Regions from separate parts of the Homo sapiens genome. Here region 2 is linked to region 1. Evidence: fine-mapped expression QTL. A gene starts in region 1. The other region holds a variant in brackets. All regions are shown on one strand. Distances are between the middles of the regions.

Region 1 (11,538 bases):
TGCAGCCTCAACCTCCCGGGCTCTAGTGATCTCTCACCTCAGCCTCCCAATTTGCTGGGACTACAGGCACACACCACCATGCCCTGGTAATTTAGAAAAAAGTTTTTTGTAGGGATAGGTCTCACTATGTTGCCCAGTCTGGCCTTGAATTACTCGGCTTAATTGAGCCTCCTGCCTCAGCCTCCCAAAGTGCTGGGATTACAGGCGTGACCCTTGGCATGGGGCCCTATAAATATTTCTGTATATAACCATCTGTATCTTTTAAGTTACCCTCGAGTTCATGCAGATTCTCTGACTCCAGTCCATTACCACATGGATCATTTTAGTCTCCTCCCCTTGCTTCTATGTAACCTTCCACTCCAACAGTGGGAAACCTGGCCCCCATCATTTGCCATCTATGTAATGAATTGTTCAGTTCCAGTGTATACATATAGTGATTTCAGAATAGTTAACCCACACTCCTCAGAAACAATGTATCAACCGTAGTACAATGCTTATGCACAGTTCCTTTTAGTCTTACAGGCGCCACTCATTTCCAGGGTTACTTAGGCCAGCAGCCATTTTCTCCACATTCTTCAGTGACATTGTTTAATATATTTGTAATACAGTTATATTCTTTTGTCACATTCTGCATTCCATCCTGATCTCTCAACATCTTCAATGATTTTCTTTTTAATTCACCCACATTAAGGCTTACTTTATGCTGTGAAGTTCTATAGTTTTGACAGATCCATGTTAGGTATCCATCATTACAGTATCATACAGAACAGTTTCATCACCCTTAAAAACCCCCCATGCTCCACCTATTCAACCTGCCGTCTTCATCACCCCCTCCAGAACCACTGATCTGTTTATTGTCTTTATAGCTTTGCCTTTTCTAGAATCCCAAATAGTATATAGACTCAGACTGGCTTTTTTCATTTACCAATATGCATTTAAGGTTTATCCCTTTTTTTTATGACTTGATAGCTGAATAGTATTTTATCATTTTATCATATGATTAGACCATGCTTTGTTTATTCATTTACCCATTAATGGACACCTTGGTTGCTTCCAGTGTTGGGTTATTGTGAATAAACTTATTAAACATTTGCATGGTCTTTGTGTGGATGCAAATTTTCAGATCAGTTGCATAAATACTTAGGTTCTCGATTGCTGGATTGTATAAGATGGTTTAGCTTGTTAAGAAACTGCTAAGAAACTGCTCAGGTATGTTCCTAAGTGGCTGTACCATTTAGCATTACCATCAGCAATGAATGAGAGTTCTTATTGCTCCTTATCCTTACTAGCCATTGCTATTATCATTTTTATGTTTAGTCATCCTTATAGGTGTATAGTGGCATTGCATTGTTGTTTTAATCTGCATTTCCCCTAAAGTAAATGATGTTGAACATCTTGTCATGTGCCTATTTGCTATCTATGTGTCTTCTTTGGTAAAGTATCCATTAAAATATTTTGTTCATTTAAATACATTTTTTTTTTCAAATTTTAGAGATGGGTCTCCTGTGTCTCAGGCTGGAGTAGAGTAGTGAGATGATGGCTCCCAGCAGCCTCAAACTCCTGGGCTCAAGGGATCCTCCCACCTCAGCCTCTCAAATAGCTAGGATTACAGGCGCATGCCACCCACTGCGCATGGCTAATTTTTTTTTTTTTTTGTAGAGATGTAGTCCTGCTTTGTTGCTCAGAATGGTCTTCATCTCCCGGCTTCTTGGGCAATTCTCTCCTCAGCCTCCCAAAGTGCTGGGGTTACAGGCATGAGCCACAACCCCCTGCTACTTTTGTCCATTTTTTATTTGAATTGTTTATTATAGTTGAATTTTTTTTTTTTTTTTTTTTGAGACGGAGTCTCGCTCTGTCACCCAGGCAGCAGTGCAGTGACGTGATCTTGGCTCACTGCAAGCTTTGCCTTCCAGCTTCATGCCATTCTCCTGCCTCAGCCTCCCGAGTAGCTGGGACCACAGGCGCCTGCCACCATGCCCGGCTAATTTTTTGTATTTTCAGTAGAGACAGGGTTTCACCATGTTAGCCAGGATGGTTTCAATCTCCTGACCTTGTGATCCACCCGCCTCGGCCTCCCAAAGTGCTGGGATTACAAGCGTGAGCCACCGAGCCTGGCCTATTATAGTTGAGTTTTAAGAGTTATTTGTATATTTTGTTTACAAGTTCTTTGTCTTCTTATTATCTTAACAGAGTTTTTCACAGAGCAGAAATTTTTAATTTTAATTAAACCCAGAATATCAATTTTTATTTTCTTGCATCATGCTTTTGGTGGTGGTGTAAAATCTCAACACCAAACTCAGACTCATGGAGATTTTGTCTTCTGTTTTCCCCTAGAGGTTTCGTAGTTTTGCATTTACACTTAGGTCTGTAATCCATTTTGAGTTAATTTTTCTGTAAGATCTGAAGATTAAAAAAATAATAACTTTATTGACATATAATTCACATACCATACAATTCACCCACTCAAAGTATACAATTAGGCAGGGTGCAGTGGCTCACACCTGTAATCCCAGCACTTTGGGTGGCCAAGGTGGGAGGATGGCTTGAGTCCAGGAGTTCAAGACCAGCCTGGACAACACAAGGAGACTACAATTCTATAAAAAATAAAAAATTAGCTAGGCATGGTAGTGCCCACCTGTGGTCTCAGCTACTCAGAAGACTGAGGTATTGCTTGAGCCGGAGATGGAGTCTCACTGTGGTGCCCAGGCTGGAGTACAGTGACGTGTCACAGCTCACTGCAGCCTCGACCTCCTGGGCTTAAGCAATCCTCCCACCTCAGCTTCTTGGTTAGCTGGGACCACAGACACGCACCACCATGCCTGTCTAACATTTTTTTCTTTTCCTACTCATGCTTTTGGTGTCATGTCTAAGAATTTATTGCCAAATCTAAGGTCATGAAGATTTACCCTTATCTTCTAATAGTTTTATATTTTTAACTCTTTTAAGTCTTTGATTAATTTTGAGTTAATTTTTGTATATGATATAAGGCAGCAATCCCCAGCCTTTTTGGCACTAGGGATTGGTTTCATGGAAGATCAATTTTCTATGGGACGGGGATGGAGGATGGTTTGGGGATGATTCAAGCACATTACATTTATTGTGCACTTTATTTCTATTATTATTACATACTCACCATAATGTAGAATCAGTGGGAGACTTGAGCTTGTTTTCCTGTAACTAGATGGTCTCATCTGGGGGTGAGGGGAGATAGTGACAGATAATCAGGCATTAGATTCTCATAAGAAGCCCACAACCTAGATCCCGTGCATGTGCAGTTCACAATAGAGTTTGCACTCCTATGAGAATGTAATGCCACCCCTGATCTGACAAGAGGCGGAGCTCAGGCCATAATGCTCACTTGCCCCACCGCTCACTCCCTGCTGTGTGGCCCAGTTCCTAACAGGCCACAGACTGGTACTAGTCTGTGGCCTGGGGGTTGGGGATCCTTGATGTAAGGTCAGGGTTCAACATCATTTTTTCCACTCTGGTGTCAGAGGTAGGGACAATGATGCACCTCTCTCTGAGTGACATCACCATGTTAGATGCTGAATGTTTCTGGCAGAAGCACTCAAAGCAGTCCCACGTTTCCTGACTTCTTTCTCGATGAGCCAGAAGCAAAGGTGATCAAGGCCCAAGTACACTCAGTGCTGCTGTGGCCAAGGTACAGCCTCCAGGTACAACTGGGCAGAAGAAGGGAGCCCCCACCTCTGCCATACTTGCTTAGAACTTAGTCTCAACAACAGGTAGCTGCGGGGAGGATGACAAATGCTGATGTTTTGTCCCTCCTAGGAAGCTGACCCTCCAACTGGGAGCTGAAGGGTGAGGGAGCCCTGTGTTCTTGGCTGCACCAGTATAGCGTGGAGCCCTCTCTGAGTTGGAAGCATGAAAAGAGTGAGTAGGTCTTGGTTCAAATACCTCAAGCTCACTTTTCTTACTGGGTTTCAGTAGGTTTTCTTGAATAAATGTTCCTTCATTTGTTGTGCACCTTTAGGACCATTTTTAGAAATTTAAATGGTTGCTTATATATAAAACATATAATTTTCACCAGTTTTGCTTTGAGCTGGGTGTACAGGGCTTCTCATGTTGTTATGCCTCTGTGGGTTCTGTTTCAATAACTTAAAGTCAGTGAGAATGTGGACAGTGGAAAACCACACAATTCAAAGTCCAGTGCTCACATAGTAATTTAATATGCACACACGTATCAACTATGAAAATGGCTCAGAACTAAATACGGATTGGGTTGACAGTAACTAAAGTAGGGAGTCCTGCATGGTTAGACCTCCATTCCCCATAAATTCATGGAGTATCTACTATATGGAAGGTATAGGAATAGAAGATAAACCGCTAAAAATTCTGAAAATTAGGAGATTTTCACAAAAACAGAACTAACAAACTAATAAGCTAAGGCAGCCTATTCTAAGTGCCCAGAGAATACATGCTCCAGTTTTTCAGAAGCACAAGAATTATGTGGGACTGGAGTAGTCAGATAGGATTTCTGTGGAGGAAGCGTGAGCTGAGTCCCATTTAGAAGAAAGGTAGGATTCAGCCGGGTGTGTAGGTTGTTGGGAGGGCATATTCCAAGGAGGCATTCCAAAGCAGAAGAGCTCAAATGTGATTGTATTTGGAATACTTGGGTATTGATGACTAGACCTGCCTGCTTGCTGGAAGGTTTGTATAGAGAGATCAAGATGGAGAAATGAGATGGAGAGTGATCAGAAATGCAGGAGAGGCTGAGTTGTTGGACCATGGAGTTTGGACTTTATCTTAGAGAAGAGTGACTTGGGCAAGATATTTTAGGAAAATGGTTTTGCCTGTAGTGTGTAGATGGAATGAAATCTCTGCGTGTGTATGTGTGCATGTGCATACGTGCACATGCACCAGGAAGCCTGGAGGCAAGGACATTAGTTATAAGATTGTTACAGAGGTTTGGATTAAGTGAAGGGATTAGGAATGGAAAGGAAGTGTCTGGTGGATGGTAAGATATAACCAGGACCTCAATAAAGCCAAGCAATTATTAAAACAAGCATGGTAGTTGTGTCCATAAACATAAAGTCCTAGAATGCAAGCTGATTTAGCGATTTGAGATAGTAAGTATATTTTAATTTAAACGGAGTCTCTTTATTTTTGAATTTGCATATACTTTTCTTCCCTCTTCTTATTCCTCTGTCAATACCTCGCACTTATTCTTCCTTTCCGCAATCCCTCTCTTTTAATTTGATCACAAATTAATCTCTTGTATGTATTTACAGGAGGAAACCAATGGCAAACGTTGTGTATGGTTGCAAGGATGAGTTTCTCCCCCTTGAAAATATCCATTCGCATAGAAATGGGAGGCACAGTGACCAACTCTTGCTTCTTAGCAGGTCTAACATGACCTTCAAAACTCCGTAGGACATACTGGTCTTTGGCGGGGCAGCATCTCCCGTCAGACTCAGGCTGGCTGGGTTTCTCACAGCTGCCTGGATGTGTGTGACTCGCAGCTCTAAGGACAGAATTGCCAAAGCAATACAAAAACACGGACGAAAAGCAAGCCACAAAACCCCATGCCTTACACATTAGGCTGATGAGTGAAGTCGCGGAAGGTGGCTCTGCTCTTGCCCTTTTAAAATTCCAGTGCAGCAAACACACACACACACACCCGCTCGGTTCTTCCCATTCCCGCCACACTGCACCAGCTTCCGTCCCCAAGTCCTGATTCATGAACCGTGCCACCTTTGTCTCATTTTAAACTGTGCAGACTATTTTAATCTTGCCACCCCCATCCCAGATTTCCCCCTCCCTTCATCCTCTGGAAGCTCTGATGTAAAGCGCTTGCTAGGTGGGAGAGCGCTTCTCCCAATCCGCTCGGGTAGGCGAGTTTCCGAGAAGCCCCCTCCCCGGGACCCCGCCGCGAGCGCGGGGGAAGCGCCTCGGTCCCTTTAAGGTGCCGCGCTCTCCGAAGTGCGGGCAGGGAGCCTGGGCGCCGGCGCGGGTCCTGGAGCCGGGTGGGGAAGTCCTGCGCCCTCCCCCTCCGTCCGCAGCCCAGCCTCGGGGGCCAGCCCCCTCCGCCCACCGCACACGGGCTGGCCATGCGGCGGCTCTGAACGATGTCCTCCTCCTCCTACGCCAAGAACGGGACCGCGGACGGGCCGCACTCCCCCACCTCGCAGGTACCGCCCCCTCCTCCCCCTTCTCCTCTTCCTCCTCTTCCTTCCTCACACCTCCTCCGCCGCCCTAGCGCGCCCCGCCTTCGTGCCGGGCGTGCGGGGCCCCAGTCCCGGGAGTCGGCGGCCCCGCTCCCCCCACCCCTCCTCCACGTCCCTTTCTCCTCCCGCTCCTCCTCTTTCTCCTCCTTCTCTTCCTCCTCCTCCTCACCCTCCTTCGGGTCTCTGCGCTCCCGCTCCGGAGCCCGCAGCCTCCCCCAGCGGATGCCGGGGACTCGGACCCCGCACCCTGAGAGTCTTTGTTAATGGATGTGGTGGGTGCTTGCGGGCTGCTCTTCTCGAGCATCTTTTCAGCAGTCGAGGCTTGCAGTGGGTGGGTGGGGGTGGGGGCTGTATTTGGGAGTCGCGGAGGAGACTTGGGTGCGGGCTCTAGGGGACCCCAGGGAGCGGGTCCGGAGGCGGACTCCAGCCGGGGGTGGTCGCCCCGCTCTGCGCTGCGGTCCTCACCGGCTTCTCTCTGGCCCCCGTGTGTCGAGTCCAGGTGGCCCGAGGCACCACAACCCGGAGGAGCAGGTTGAAAAGATCCGATGGCAGCACCACTTCGACCAGCTTCATCCTCAGACAGGTATGAGAAGGAGGCGGGAGACCAGGATGGGGAGGAGGCCGAGCGCGCGGCGCGGGGGTCCTGGAGCCGGCCGTGGCCCACACGTGCGGGAGCTGCGGGTCAAGCCCGCGCGCGTCTCTTCCCGGCCTCGGCCGGTGCTCGGGCTCAGTCCCTCTCCCTCTAGCCTGGGCTCTTGACGTCTTCGCGTCCCGGCGTCTCCGCACCGCCCCGGGAAGTTAGTTTGTGCATGTGTGTGGACAGTTCGGTGGGGACCTGGCTTAAGTCAGGGACGTTGAATTTAAGAGCTGGAAATATGTCTGGTTGTATCTTTGGTGCGTGGAGAAATGTCTTTAATTCGTATAACTCGACCTAGAGTAACCAGACCCCTCGGGGCCGGGGACCTGGTTTGATTCGAGTTGAGATTTAGTGGTTTCTTCTGTTTTGTCCTAATTTGAATACTCTTATCTGTCTGGATCTTGGGAGAGATCGTCAAGCTCCGGTCAAAAGAAAGACACTGAGCAGAAAGTTTACTCTCACTTTAGGACCGCTTCTTGGATTCGCTTAGTTAGGGAAAGACAGCTGTATCTGGTTAAATAGGAATTAACGAAGGCCAGCACTCAGCTCCGGGTCTGGGTGCGCCTTCACTTCGTGTTTGTTTTCTTAGTGCTTGCTTTCTCCTGCGTGGTTCTAGTGCGAATTGTCTGTGCTCGGGATCTCCGGATCGCTGGTAATGCTCAATGCTTAGGTGCCTTTCACCTTGGCACAGGAAATTGGTCCTCAGTTTTCCAACTGTCCATGTGCTGTTAATGAAACCACCCCTGGCTGCTGGGTGCTAGAGAGATCATGCAATGAGTCACCTTGATCTTTCTTTGGAACAGAAATTGTCGGGGTGTGTCCTAGGTTTCGGGTGACCTAGGAAGACATTGGTCATCGCACCAAGAGGCTTTTATCCCAGGTCTTCCTGTGGGCTGCTGGAGTGACCTTGAGAAGTTCTTTTCCCTCTAGGTCACTCAGTATTGTGTAATGTGTTTTCTAACCTATGATGGCAGCTCTGGTGTTTCTTTAGTGATTATCATCAATTTAAACATATCAACGAGGAATTGATATCAAAATTGAACTCAGACCTCTCCTAAAAGGGTCTATAAAGCATATTTAGATGATATTTATTATGCAGAATTTCACTTTCTGCAGAAGCGGAAATTTTGACTACCATTTAATTCAGCGAGCACTAAGCATGTACATTATGGAAATAAATGCATTTTGGATTCCGAATTCATTCTAAAAGTGCATTCTATCCCCTTTGCAGTATTTAGATTATGTATTTGATAAGGCAAACATATTGTTTATCTTAAAAACATTTTTCTGTTATGCAACTGTTTGAGGTCTTGCTGGTGTTTATTTTGTAGGTGCCTATTTTTAGTGGTGTTTCATTGTTGCAAATTCTTGGAAATACTAATTACACAGCAGTTCTTTCCATAAGCTGTTTGACTAAAACTTTTGAGTTCATCTACATAACTGCACTAATGCTTTATTCTTCCTTCCAAGCACAAACAAAATAATATTCTAATATTCTTACTCTTTTCTCAATTTATGCCCGTAACTGATTGAGATGATGTATATATAAGTTCTTGTAAAGCGTGCTGCTATGTGCTGGCTTAAGAAATGTTAAAAGTATTGCATGCTAAATAATTTTGGGAATAATTTAAAGCAAAGTAGATTTTTTTAAATAAATATATTTCATCTATGAAATGGGAATTCATTGGTTTGATTAAATGGTCTAATTTAAATTCAGGAGTTAATTGTAATTGTATTATATACACAATCTTATTTTTCGGCACAAAAATAGTACTTAATTTTTTTCTTTTTTCAGACGGAGTCTTGCTCTGTCGCCCAGGCTGGGGTGCAGTGACGCAGTCTCTGCTTACTGCAAGCTCTGCCTCCTGGGTTCACGCCATTCTCCTGCCTCAGCCTCCCGAGTAGCTGAGACTACAGGCACCCGCCATCACGCCTGGCTAACTTTTTTGTATTTTTAGTGGAGACAGGGTTTCACCGTGTTAGCCAGGATGGTCTTTATCTCCTGACCTCGTGATCTGCCCACCTCATCCTCCCAAAGTGCTGGGATTACAGGCGTGAGCCACCATGCCCGGGCTACTTAATTTTTATGAGCACTTTACAACTCACTGAGTATACTACACATGATCTCATTCAAATGACATCATACAGACTTCTGTATTGGCTACAATAAAAATAACTGAGGGATTTACATTTCTTTGATGAGATAAGGAAAATGATTACAAATGCAGTTTAACAATAACTTTCGGATAAAATTGAAATCACCCCAATGCCAAAAAATATTTTTTATGAAAGCATAACAGCTGCTTACGTTAACAGAGCCTTGGGCTGGTCACAGTGGCTCACGCCTGTAATCCCAGCACTTTGGGAGGCTGAGGTGGGCGGATCACTTGAGGTCAGGAGTTTCAAACCAGCCTGGTAGCATGGTGAAACCCCGACTGTACTAAAAATACAAAGAAATTTGCCAAGCGTGGTGGTGTGTGCTTGTAATCCCAGCTACTCGGGAGGCTGAGGCAGGAGAATTTTTTGAACCTAGGCGGTGGAGGTTGCAGTGAGCCAGTATTGCTCCACAGCATTCCAGCCGGGCGACAGAGCAGGACTCCATCAAACAAACAAACAAACAAAAACAGAGTCTCATTATTTGTAGAATGACCAGTGATTTATTGATATTTGAATTCTTGATACATTGGAGTGATGAAATTTCTTGGTGCTGTTTCACAGTCTTTGTGATGCCTTTGAAGAAGATAGTGGAATACCAAAAAATATATATATTGCTAGTTTCTTTATCATATTATTTACAAAAATATGGAGAAAAGCTTTCATTAAAAAAAAAATCGATGTGTTACATTGGATGGGGAAGACTGGGCTGTTGGTGAAGCAGAGAAGGCAGTTGGCAACTCACCCAATAAGACAATATTTGTTCTTTGAGCTTGTTAAAAAGTTTCAGTGTTTCTGAGACTATATATGCACATATGTGTGCATGCACACACATGAACATTTGAATTGGCTGGAAAACAAGCAGACTGAGAAAGAGAGCCTGCTTCCACTCTGAGGACTGCTCATGAAGCCCCTCAGGAATCTTTGACCTTGTTTCTGGTCTACAAGATTTCTGGCTTCCACCATTTAGGAGGGATGGAGGTTTTGGAATGAATCCAGGGAGCAAATAAATGGCTTCTTTGAGGAAAGGTGAGAAGATGAAGTACTTTGCCGCTGAAAGGAAAGAAAGCTAGGAGTGACCCAGAAATGATCTTCAAAGTACACACAAAGGCTTTCTTTGGAAATGTGATGAAGTGTTCTCACTCTTCATTGGGGATGAAACTCAAGAACTGGCCCAAATTAGAAAGGAATGATGTTTTACAGCAAGACCTTCCTAAGAGTGTTGCCATCATTGGAGTGGCTTTCCAAATGAGGCCATAGAATTTTCTTTCAGGAGAGCCCTTCTTACAGGCTATTTATGAATGGATTATCTAGTCATATTTTAAAGTTTTAGGAAACACTTAAGTATTTGCTATGTGCCTAGCACTATGTTAGATATTGTAGGGGAGGAATGAAAAGATGGATGAGACACAGCCCCTGTACTCAAAGATTTTTATAATCTAGCAATGGAGACAGAGATGTCTACAAACAGTACGGTGACATGTAACAAGGAACGAGAGGGCGGGCTCAATGACCATGTACCCCGAGTATCTATTATATATCCATAAGTATATCTACCCATGGGTGTCACTACACATACAGTTTATACGGCTGAGTACTCCAAGTTAGTCCTCTTCCCACTGGGGTTTGAAGAGAAAATCTGATCAGAGTGGGAATAGTTTGTTGACTTTTCCTTGTTAAGTCTGCTCTTATGAGGCCAGCAAAGTCATACCTGGCCTGGCCCCTGCCTGCTTCCAGCCTCATCTTGAGCCATGATCTCTTAGCTCTGGACACAGAGTTTGAACACACTGTCTTCCCTCTTGCCACTGGTCCTTTGCATATGCTGAGCCCTCTGTGTGGCAGGTTGTTGTCCTTCCTTCTGCCTAGTTAACTTTTAATCTTCCCTGAGATCTGGGGGTTTAGTCTTCACTTCCTCTTCTAACCTTCCTGATAAAGTCAGTTCCCCAACAAGGGGCTCCCAGAGGGCCTTGTGCCAGTTTTCAGTAGCACCACCGCTTTTATTTAACATGTACTTAGATTTCTCTGTTACATTCTGTCTCCCCATCCGTATGAGTTCCACAAGGACAGGGACATGTCTGCATTTGATCTTTGTGTCCTCAGCATCTAGCATAGTATATGTTCAATAAACACACACTTGAATGAATGAAGCAGTGGATGGATGGAGAACTAACTTGATATATTTTAGGCATGAGGTTCTGCTCCAACATTAAATGCTTTGTTTAGTGGGGAGAAATTGCCTCCTAACCTCCCCCAAAACTCTGTGGCTTGAAACAACAACAATTTTTTATTTCTGTGTACTAACCAGACAGTTCTGCATTGTATGATGTTATATGGGCACTGGGATGGCTGGAAGGTCCAGAGTGGCCTCACACATGTGGTTGGCAGTTGGTGCTGGCTGCTGGCTGAGAACTCAACTAGAGCTTTTGGCAGCGGCTCAGTTTTTCTCCACCTGGGCCTCTCAACATGGTTGCTTGAGCTCCCGGATAATATGGTGGCTAGGTTCCAAGAAGTGAAGGCTGAAGCCACAGCTCTCCTAAGACCCAGTTTTGAAAGCTACACTGT
Region 2 (11,538 bases), 100 kb after region 1:
AACTCTGTGTGGTATAAGGTACACATTGTTAAATATATTTGATAGATGATAGAACCAAGTCTCAGAGAGGTGAATTAACTTGACCAAGGCAACAATTAGTTAGTTGGATAAGTTGCATATTTGATCTCAGAAGAATTCTTATTAAAATGAATAGATTCCAATAACATTTTGCTTTGGGGAAGTATCTGCAAAATCTTCCACTGCAGCTATTTAGGCCATGGTCGCTGTATAACCTCGACAGTATTTGCTGTATATATGAACAGAGAAAGACCCACACAGATACATCTTTGATTTATATCAGCTCCACATGATTTGGTATTAAAAAAATTGTCTTCCTAAAAAAATCATATTCCCAATTCATTGAATCAAGAAGTGCCATCACATGTGTGTGTATATGTATGTGTGTGTGTGTTTCAAGTAAGAGGACGAAAGAGGACAGAGGAACAAAAAAAGCCTCTTCTCTTTAAAAATGTTGCTGTACTGCAAGTCAGCCACTGCTGAAACTCTGAGATGGCTTTTGTTTTAAAATCTCCTGGGACTTGCAGATCGTGGAGGTGCGGCATTGCTGTTCATATCCATGATCATGCCTGAAGCACACACGGAAAGGTTGTGAGCAGTCCCTCTTGTAGGGGTGTGTGGCATGTGAAGACTTTGGTGTGCTGTGGATCACTCCTTGGAGAAATGCTCGTTGTTAGCACAGTTAGGTTTTTGCTGGCAGAATGGCAGAAGCCAGCTTTCTAAAATGACTACCTCTCCCGCACCTCCCTGCTATTTTTGCATTGGCATCCTCCTGATGAGGATAGCTCTTGCTGACCATTTACACTTATTTACATTCTATTCCACAGCCCATAAGAGCCAGCTTTCCTAAGCTCCTTCCCTGACATCCCAGACTCATGTAAACATCATCCTCCGGAAGCACTTGTTACCCGTAAAACTCATTCTCTTTTTTTTTTTTTTTCTTTCGAGACAGAGTTTTGCTCTTGTTGCCCAGGCTGAAGTGCAGTGGCATGATCTCAGCTCACTGCAACCTCCGCCTCCCAGGTTCAAGCGATTCTCCTGCCTCAGCCTCCTGAGTAGTTGGGATTATAGCCATGTGCCACCATGCCCGGCTAATTTTGTATTTTTTTTTTTTTTTTTTTTTTTTTTTTTTAGTAGAGATGGGGTTTCACCATGTTGGTCAGGCTGGTCTCGAACTCCTGACCTCAGGTGATCCACCTGTCTTGGCCTCCTAAAGTGCTGGGATTACAGGCATGCGCCACCGTGCCTGGCCGACTCGTTCTTTAACTGATGGACGCTACCCTGCCAGATGGTGGTTTTATTCAGGTACATACACATTTCATCTCCCTGCCTTTAGTGTGAATTTCCAGAGGGCAGGGCCTGAGTCTCAGGCCCCATTCTTGCTGCCCTCTCCTTCCACCACCCCTTGGCACTCAGCCTTTGGCCAGGCCCAGTTTGTTGAGAGGCAAGAGGCAGGAGGCTGTGGTTAAGGCCATGTGCTCTGATCCCGACCTCCTAGGTTTGAATCCTGACTGCTACTTACTGACCGTGACCTTTGGTAGCTCAGCCTCTTAATCTGTAAAATGGAAATCCTAATGGTACCTGCCTCGTAGGGTTGTTGAAAAGATTCGGTGAGATTTGATGTGAAAACTGCTTAGCATGGTGTCTGGTATGCAGTAGGCATGATAAAAGCCATACCTATTGTTATGCTTCAGGAAGAATCTGCTGGAGGTGGGAGGCTGGAGGCCCATGAGGAGGCCTCTGGGGCGGTGACGGTGGAAGAGCCACATCTGCGCTGGCTCAAGAGCCCGCGCACTTTTCTGCACATCCTCCGCCCAGGCCATGAGCATCAGTCCTCGCTGCAGTCTTGTCCCAGCCCAAGAGGTCAGGGGCGTGTGAGTGCTGGGAGGGGAGAGTAGGTACAGAGTGCTGTCACTGGGAGGGAGGATTTGGTGGCTAATTGGATATACGAAAAGTAAATGGGGAGTTAAGGATTCCTTTCAGGTTTCCAGTTTGGACAACTGGGTTGACATGGATGCTGTTAACTGAGAAAGGAACCAAGAGTTGGAACAGGTTTAGAGGGGCTGGTAATGAATTTAGTTACAGACGTCTTGGGTTTGCAGGATCCGGGATGCATCTAGATGGAGCCATCCAGTTGTAATGACAACAGAGAACATATATGGAATATCATGTTCCAGTGTCTGTTCCAAGCCCTTCACAGGTTTGAATCCACTTATTCTCACAACAACCTTATGAAGGAGGTACAATTCTTATTCCCATTTTACAGATGAGAAGACTAGATGCAGGGTGCTTTAGTTACTTGTGTAAGGCCACACTGCTAACAAGAGATGGTGCAGAGATTGGGACCCAGGTAGTCTGGTCCCAGATAGCCCCCACATTTTGCTGCTACTCTACACAGACCCTCCATCTCGTTTCTGGGAGGATAGGTCTGGACATGTAGGTGTGGTGAAGCCTTGGCAGGGAGGACATAGCTCGAAAGCCCCTGAAGAGTGAGGTGGGTGGTGGAGGAAAGAAACTCAATTTGCTGATGCAAATGAGCATCATTGTTGAAAATTCAGGATCAATAAAAGGTATGACTGGGAGGAAAGGTCAAGTCGGAGTATGATATTCTTGTTAATATCTCTAAGTAAAGGCTATAGGATTGATGACACAATGCTTTGATACAATACTTATGTGTCCATTTCAGTCAACAAAGTTTGCTCAGATGGCTTTCAAATTCCTTTGATTAACACTCTTGTGAGGTAAGTAGGTGGGAAGTGTTATTACTGAGGGTACACAGGAAGAAATGAATTTGGGAATAGAATCCTAGCCAGACTCTCCCCGCCAAGAGTTTTATTTAACAAAGCACACACTGATAGAAGGTGTAGATTGCAAAGTACTAGTTATGTCCTGGAGTTGGGTTAGTAATTTTCAATTAACTTTTTGGGTGGCATAGCCTTGGTACCTAAACAAAATGAAATGGCTGCTAATGATTTATTTTTACTCTACAAGCTGCCTTAATTATACCAAGAAGAGGATTAACACATTGGCTCTCGGCTCTGGCTGTGCGTCAGAATCACCCAAGGGGCTTTAAGAAACTGCATTCTTAGGCCCCACCTCTGCAAATTTCCGTTGGGTAAATTGGGTTAGAGGTAAAGGAGTGGACTGGGGCTGTTGTTGTGCATTTTAAAAATAGGTGCTCCTTTGTCAAGATGCTGGAATGACATAAGTATTTATTTCCTTTTCATCCCAGAATCTCACTGAAATGATTCCCCCAAAGGGTATAAGAAGAAAAAAAAAAAACCATAACAGGGCGGGCAGACAGAATAAGGTACCATCAACTGGAAAGAAATTCTGAGGATTGTCCCGAAGGTACCAGCAGATGGGACTGGGGACTGGATTTTAAAAGATAGAGCAAAAAACCCAGAGGGGGCGGACATGAACTGTCCAAGGGGAGCACCGTTCTGGGCTGGAGCTGGGAAGAAGCACCACCTGCGCCATCTAGTGGAGGTCATGAGTAGGCCATGGAGTGAGTGATTGATTGTCTGGATAATTAATTAAAAGACACCCTGTTCCTACTGATTCCTTATGCCAAGCAGCTGACAGCCGCATTTGTTCTCAGGCTAAAGCTGCAAGAACTGTTCTCCAAATAAAATTCAGGCTCAGCCCCGGGGTGTGAGTCCCTACATTGGCACCAAGGTGACAGAGAAGCAGAAGGTACTTTTGCATCTTCGTGAGGGTGAAGCTCACCAAGCTCCAGGGGAAAGCTTTTCACACTTTGGTGGAGAGGTGGGTCACCCTCTTGCTCACTGCTCAGACATCCATTGGGAGACCTGGCTGCCCACCGATGTCCCTATTCTCATAGACTAGGGTAGACAGCCCTCGAACGCAGGGGAGAGGCTCACTGTGAAAATAGATTTTCTGGGGGGTGTGCTGAATACAGCATTCCAATGATGCAGATGTGGGATGACCAGCCTATTATTGGCTGTATGCATTGCTGGTCCTGCTAGATGGACTTAGTGCCCCCGTGGAGGGGAGACAGAATACTGAGAGGAAGGATAATAAGCACCGTGGATTTCTGTACAGGCCTTATCATTTCCACATCTTTCATCTGAGCCTCATAACAATCTTGTGAGGCAAATGGCACTTATGGTTTCATTTTACCAATAAGACAGCTGAGGTTCTGAGAAGTTAAGGAAGTTCAGGGACTTGATCAAGTTCATTCAGGTAACATGTAGCAGAGTAAGGAACCAAAACTGGGTTTTGCTACCTCAGATGATATTCTCTTTCTACTTATCGCATATTTTCCAGTTTACATAATTTACTTAATTTCAACTTTTTTTTTTTTTTTTTTTTTTTTTTTTGGAGATGGAGTTGCCCAGGCTGGATTGCAGTGGCACCATCTCCACTCACCACAACCTACGCCTCCTGAGTTCAAGCGATTCTCTTGTCTGAGCCTCCTGAGTAGCTGGGACTACAGGTGTGCAACACCATGCCCAGCTAATTTTTTTGTATTTTTAGTAGAGACAGGGGTTCACCATGTTGGCCAGGCTGGTCTTGAACTCCTGACCTCAGGCGATCCCCCCACCTTGGCCTCCCAAAGTGCTGGGATTACAGACATGAGCCACCATGCCCAGCCTATTTCAACTTTTTGATAAACATTCATTTCTGGAAGGTAGAGTAGACTTCGGGATCTGTAGATAAATTTGTGCCAGTGTAATAGAGTAATGAGGCTGAAAAACATTGAGAAATATTCTGAAATGATGGCTCCCACGAAAGTGAAAAAGATAGTATCATGTATTAAAAAGGGATTAATTTAGGAATTTGACTGTGGTTGGGTTTAGGACATACTTGTTTCCTGAGGTTGCTGCAACAAAGTACTACAAAGCCGGTGGTGTAAAATAGCACACATTTATTTTCTCACAGTTGTAGGGGTCAGAAGTTGGAAATCAAGGTGTCAGCAGGGTTGCCTTCCTTGGAAGGCTCTGGGGGAGAATTTCGTTCCTTGACCTTCCAGCGTCTGGTGGCCGTTAGCATTCCGTGACTTCTTGGCTCATGGTTACATCACTCCAATCTCAGCATTCATCTTCATGTCACCTTGTCCTCTGTGTCTTCTCCCCTTTGTCCCCTTCGTCTCTTTTTTTTTGAGACAGAGTCTCACTCTGTCTCCCAGGCTGGAGTGCAGTGGCGCGATCTCAGCTCACTGCAAGCTCTGCCTCCTGGGTTCACGCCATTCTCCTGCCTCAGCCTCCTGAGCAGCTGGGACTAGAGGCGCCCGCCACCACGCCTGCCTAATTTTTTGTATTTTTAGTAGAGACGGGGTTTCACCGTGTTGGCCAGGATGGTCTCGATCTCCTGACCTCGTGATCCGCCTGCCTCAGCCTCCCAAAGTGCTGGGATTACAGGCGTGAGCCACTGCGCCTGGCCCCCTTTGTCTCTTATAAGGACACTTGCCATTGGATTTAGGACCCATTCAAGTAATCCAGGATGATCTCATTGCAACATCCTTAACTTAAATTTGCAAAGACCCTTTTTCCAAATGAGGTCACATTTAGAGGTTCCAGGGATTTGAATGCAGATGTATCTTTTGGTGTGGGGTCATCACTCAGCTCACTACAGGGTGTATTTATTTACTTAACATTTTCATAGTGAAATGAAAAAACCCCTTGGCCCTTATACCCTGTGATGTATATTTATACAACCATTGGAACACCTCATCCCTAGGGACTAGGTTTGTGTTATTTTTTTTCTTAAACACCAACAGGTAACAGCTGCCAGTTTGAAAGCAGG[A/C]GCTTCTCTTGAGCCTTTCCTGTGTCTGTCTGTGATGACATTTCTGTGACTCCATCTCTGCCTCCTTTTCTTTAGTTTCCTGGGCAAGACACTAGGATTTTAGAAACTGGTATTCAAAAGGGAGGAAATCAAGTGACAGAAAATAAGAAAAATATTCTGAGGTTTCTGCCTTCTTTAATCATGGAAAGGAATGGCAGGTTTACTCAGCCCAGATTGGAAAGAAAGGTAAAAACCTTGGGACAGGAGGGGATATTGGGCTATTTATTTTTGAGTCACTCACATTCTTCAGTTTGAAAATGGAAAAAACTGAAAGCCAGAAGGATTATGTAAGGTCACTTGGCAAGTTGTGGGCTGACATAGCATTAAGACTAAGAGCTTCTGAGTTCTCTATTCTTTTTTTTTTTTTTTTTTAAGAGACAGGGTCTTGCTCTGTTGCCCAGGCTGGAGTGCAGCAGCGTGATCACAGCTCACTGCAGCCCCGATGAGTTCTCTGTTCTGAGCTTCTGAATCACAGTGACTCTTGAGGGGGTCTCACTCTATTAATCTTTGGTTGTCTAAGCAGTATATGAGGGTCTTGACACTCACAGCCAAATGAGCACACAGGAGAGGTTAAGCCTTGACTTTGCTGTGTTTGATCTTCATTCAATAAATGAGTAAAAGAAATGAATGCTGTGGTTGTATTCAACTTGTTTCCAAGCTAGCCAGTAGTGAGAAGCCTGTAAGCAAATGGATTTTTAAAATTTCATACTAGTATCTATTACGGGCAATACCGTTCTTGAATCCAAGTGAATTGTCTGAAGGATTACCATGTCTGGTGCTGGTGTTTGTAGACTTATATAGGAAAAATAACAACAAACAGAAGCCAGCCTTTCTTCTTCATAAGGACTTGCTCCGACCATTCATCTAAAAGTAGATTTTCTCTTTGCAGACTTTGAACTGCTTTGAACTTGTTTGCAAGGTCAGCCCTCCACTAGTTCAGGAGAATGAAAGCTATTTGGAGAGCTGGAGTAAATATTGAAGTAAACCAGCCCAAAGAGCAGTTTGCCTTGTCTCAGGAGAAGTTGATAGCTTTACCAGGTACTGGTAGGTAGTTTCCCAACATAGGGCCCAACTGCCAGGCAATGTTGGTAGGCTCTGCAGACTTCTAAATGACAGACTTTATTTTATTTTATTTTATTTTTGAGACGGAGTCTCGCTTTGTCACCCAGGCTGGGGTGCAGTGGCGTGATCTTGGCTCACTGCAAGCTCCACCTTCTGGGTTCACGCCACTCTCCTGCCTCAGCCTCCCGAGTAGCTGGGACTACAGGTGCCCGCCACCATGCCAGGCTAATTGTTTTTGCATTTTTAGTAGAGACGGGGTTTCACTGTGTTAGCCAGGATGGTACAGACTTTAATAAAGCATGTCTGTTAAGTGATATTATGCTTTGAATCATTTTGTGTATGAACTTACTTCCTTATTTTTTTGGCTAATGCCTATTAAATCTAATGTATTCTGCTTCTTTTTGTGCTAAGCACATGACTGAAAGGCTGTGAGCCATAAATCTTACACTCAAAAAATTCACATGATGTTTTCTCATTTTACCTTGTAATGACTTTGGCCTTGTGGTTTATTGTTATGGCCTGGGAGTGTTTTTGAGGTACATTTTTATTTTTGTCATATAAAGTACCCAAAACACTCCTGGTGTGTGTCTAAGGGATAGCCTTGGGCGGGGGGAGGGGGCAGTTACTTTGGCATTTATGCTTGCAACCTTTTTGGCACTTATATTTGCCAACTGAGTAGGCCAGTAATAATTTGGAATATGTCTTGTTGAGCATATACTTCTGAGAGATGTAAAAACCAAAGTTTCTGCAAATTTATTTAATTCCTTGTTTGATCAGCATCAAACTGGACCTCAAGTTTAAATTTAATTTCTATTTTCACTTGGGAACAAAAATTATTGCAAGAATTGACAAGGCAGCTAGATATGGTGGCTCACACTTGTGATCTCAGTACTTTGGGAGGCTGAGGCAGAAGGATCACTTGAGGCCAGGAGTTCAAGACCAGCATGGGCAAGACTCTGTCTCTAAAGAAAAAAAGAAAGAAAGAAAAGAAAAATGCATTTGCAAGGCTAATAGAAATCAGGAGGCTAAAAGGAAAACCTGGCCTAAATGATGTATCTCCTAGATGTAGGTGGGGCAGGCAGTCATATTTGCTTAAGGAGCCTATGAGGCAGCCTGTAGAAAAGGGACAGGCGCCTCTAATCCCAGCTCCTTGGGAAGCTGAGGCACGAGAATTGCTTGAACCCAGGAGGTGGAGGTTGCAGTGAGCCAAGATTGTACCACTGCACTCCAGCCTGGGCGACAGAGTGAGACTGTGCCTCAAAAAAAAAAGGGGGGACCCTTTTGGCTGGGAATGGTGGCTCACGCCTGTAATCTCAGCACTTTGGGAGGCCAAGGTGGGCAGATCACTTGAGGCCAGGAGTTTGAGACCAGCCCGGCAACATGCTGAAACCCCGTCTCTACTAAAAATACAAAATGAGCTGGGTGTGGTGGCACACGCCTTTAATCCCAGCTACTTGGGAGGCTGAGGCAGAAGAATCGCTTTGTAAAGCATGATCATGCCACTGCACTCCAGCCTGGGCGACAGAGTGAGACAGTGTCTGAAAAAAAAAGAAAAGGGACCCTTTTTTTCTGGATTCCAGACAGGAAAATTTAATCCTCGGTGGTGTTTTTTTTTAAGAAACAGAGTCTTTCTCTCTTACTTAGGCTGGAGTGTAGTGATTCCAGCATAGCTCACTGCAGCCTCAAACTCCTGGGCTAAAGCAATTCTCCTACCTCAGCCTCCCAAGTAGCTGAGACTACAGGCACACACCACCATACTCAGCTAATTTTTAAATTTTTTGTAGAGATAGGGTCTTGCCATGTTATCCAGGCTGGTCTCAAACTCCTGGGCTCAAGCAATCCTCCTGCCTTGACCTCCCAAAGTGCTGGGATTACAGGCATGAGCCACTGTGCCTGGCCACTTTTTCAACTTTAAAAGTGGTCCCCGGCTGGGCACAGTGGCTCACGCCTGTAATCCCAGCACTTTGGGAGGCCGAGGTGGGCGGATCACAAGGTCAGGAGTTCGAGACCAGCCTGACCAACATGGTGAAACCCCGTCTCTACTGAAAATACAAAAATTAGCCCGGCGTGGTGGCACACACCTGTACTCCCAGCTACTCGGGAGGCTGAGGCAGGAGAATCGCTTGAACCTGGGAGGCAGAGGTTGCAGTGGGCCAAGATTGTGCTACTGCACTCCAGCCTGGGCGATAGAGCAAGACTCCGTCTCAAAAAAAAAAAAAAAAAAAGTGCTCCCCAACCTATGCCTCCGTGTTCAGAGAAGTAGTCTCTGGCACTATCCTGTTTTTCTGGTTCCTTACCTGGCCCCTCTTGTAATTTGTGTGCCTCATCTGGCCTATGAATTCTCACTGCTGTGTGTTTCATCCTTGCTTTGGCACTTTGCCCTGTGTACCTTCTCGTCCAGTTCCACTTTCATTGGCTACCATGAATATCATTTCTCCTGGGCCCCAGGCTCCTATTTCCTGTCCCTGAAAGTAGGTCTGGGCTTCTTGGGTCAAACAAAAATGGTATCTACAAATTACTTTGTCTCAAGGAGTGTTTCTAGATATAGTTAGTGATCAAAAATGTGCTTCCAAACAAGGAGGAAAGCTTGTGGGTAAAAGCCTTGATAGTAAAAAAGATGTTTAAAAAAAAAAAAAACAAAAAACGTGGCTTACTGTCTCTGACTCTGACCTTATTCAAGATGTTTTCTTGTCCCTTCTTCCCACACCTACCAAAAAAGACACCAGAGCTGAGAACCTTGTGAGATCCACTCAATTTCAGTCCTTTTCGTGGGTGTGAGGAAGACAATAATTACCAGATTTGGAAGCTGATGAAGGTGTCATTTTGACAGTCCTGAGAACTTAAATGTTCTGTTTGCATTGCTTGCAGAACTATTTGCAATTTAGGAAGCGGAATATTTCCAAAGCATCTTTAGTGACATGGCTTAACCTTGACTTTGGAGGAGTAAGAGTCAGTCAAAGGATGTGAAATACTCAGCTTACATTGGCTAAGTGCTCATAGCATCAAGTTTCTCTAGGGGTGACTGAATGGGTCCCAGTTGGAATGAGGTGAGAAATGGGACTAAGGATTGCTTCCTGATTGCAATGGTGGCTAGCTTGTAGCTTTCCCAGAAACTTAAATTTGCTCTGCTCCCCCGGGTGCTGGTTTGCATTCACATATCTCAGCAACTGTCATAATGACATGCAACAGCCACGCCATTTACAGAAAAAGCTAGAACTCTGTGTTGGTAAGTAAAAGCCCTCCAGCATAGGTATACACTTAGTTGTTCCTTCCAGTGGTTATCATACTTCTTTTCTTGCCATAGTTACATGCTAACAACGTCCCAAAGCTATAGTTGCTCTTGCATTTTGTTCTTAATTCTTGTAAGATAAACTAATAATACAGGGAGTAAATGTGCACTGTTTATTAATTAAAATCCCCGGGACACGGGATAAACTGAAGGAAATCGTGCTTTTTGAAAAGTAGGTGTAGCTTGCCATGCTGCATTGTCTTATACCCACACATAACTCTGGCTGGCACTTTTTGGGTGCCAGGCTGCATGCATCTCCCTGACCCACTGTAGACTTCAGCTGCAGCTGTGGTGGACAGTGCTTATGCATCCAGCCTGTTTGCCTTCTCTCTTCTGCCTCACGGTTCTCCCTTGAAGGAGTTTACTCCATCCAGGCCTGTCTCCAAATAGAGGAAACTTAATGCCCTCTCCACCAATGGTGAAGGGGGGTCGAGGATTAAGTACTCTAGCTCATTGTCCTTCAGGGGGGCCATTCTGGAGAGCATTTTACTCTCGCTTAGAAGTTCTCAGTGGGACTGAGTCCCAGTTACCTCTCTGCAATCGGAAATCAGTTATGTATTCTTCATTGACTTTTCCTCCTTCCTGGATTCGCTCTTTTGTTTCCCTCATTCCTGCTTCCTAAGATCCCCTCCGAAAGTCGTTATCTTAGGTTCTGCTTTGAGGGAGGCCAAATTAAGACAATCGCCATTACAGAATGATAAACAAATCACTAGAAGCATCTCTTTTAGCATCTCCTTTTGACTCCCTATAGAGAAAGATAGTTTTTCACGATTTTTTTAAAAAATGGAAGCCAGAAAAATAGACAGATGAAGAAAAAGATTGTTTGTTTCTTATTGTCATGTTAAGAAAAAGAAGACATTCAGAAGCCCTGCATTCCTATGGTTATGCTTTAGAAAGCAAGAAGCACATTCTTCACACCCCATTTTTCAGTTTTTGGCATGTCATTTAGCCCATTTTCAGAATTCGTCACCTAATGGCTACTCCCAGTTCAAAACCACATGTGGAAAATTATAACAAGAGACAATGAAAAGTCATCTGGCTCAGTGCTCCATCTTCAGGTGAGAGGAGGACTCAGGTTAGAGAAAAACATGTAAAGAGATTTCACAGTGAGCTTAGCAGAACTGTGCAGACCAGCTTCTGGGAAAACTGGTTCTTCAGGATGGGTTCCAGAATTTGGATTTTGGATTAAATGTTATTGATTAATAAGAACTAAATTGGATCTCCAAAATGGAACTACTGTACTCAGAGTCCTAAGACTAGTCTGGAGCCGAACTCTGAGTTAGAAGGTGATGAGCTGCTCACCTCCAGTGTTCAGAGTCCAAGCCTTCTCTCTAAAGAGAGTTCATCACTGCTAGCTTGAT

Direction of the effects. Positions count from the first base shown, and alleles are read on the strand shown. Sizes are in standard deviations (SD) of each study's normalised expression.
For the expression in sun-exposed skin of the gene that starts at base 6,054 in region 1, C is the high allele of the variant in region 2 and A is the other (small effect, 0.30 SD a copy in GTEx).

Evidence for each region. PIP is the estimated chance that this variant, and not a neighbour inherited with it, causes the effect. A credible set is the group of variants that fine-mapping cannot tell apart.
Region 2: its variant is the best candidate, but not a certain one, in a credible set for the expression of CACNB4 in sun-exposed skin (GTEx, PIP 0.78).

What each region holds. Positions count from the first base shown.
Region 1 is chr2:152,093,560-152,105,097 of GRCh38, reverse strand. CACNB4 (calcium voltage-gated channel auxiliary subunit beta 4) reads left to right here and starts at 6,054. Exons shown (of 14, transcript NM_000726.5): 1 at 6,054-6,149; 2 at 6,685-6,768. The coding sequence starts at 6,087. RefSeq lists a silencer at 5,856-6,145.
Region 2 is chr2:151,991,139-152,002,676 of GRCh38, reverse strand. All of the region lies in intron 2 of CACNB4 (calcium voltage-gated channel auxiliary subunit beta 4), which reads left to right. Among named protein-coding and RNA genes, the nearest start is that of CACNB4, 100 kb to the left of the region's middle. RefSeq lists enhancers at 1,300-1,800, 3,490-3,569. The variant A/C (reference allele first, on the strand shown) is at 5,788.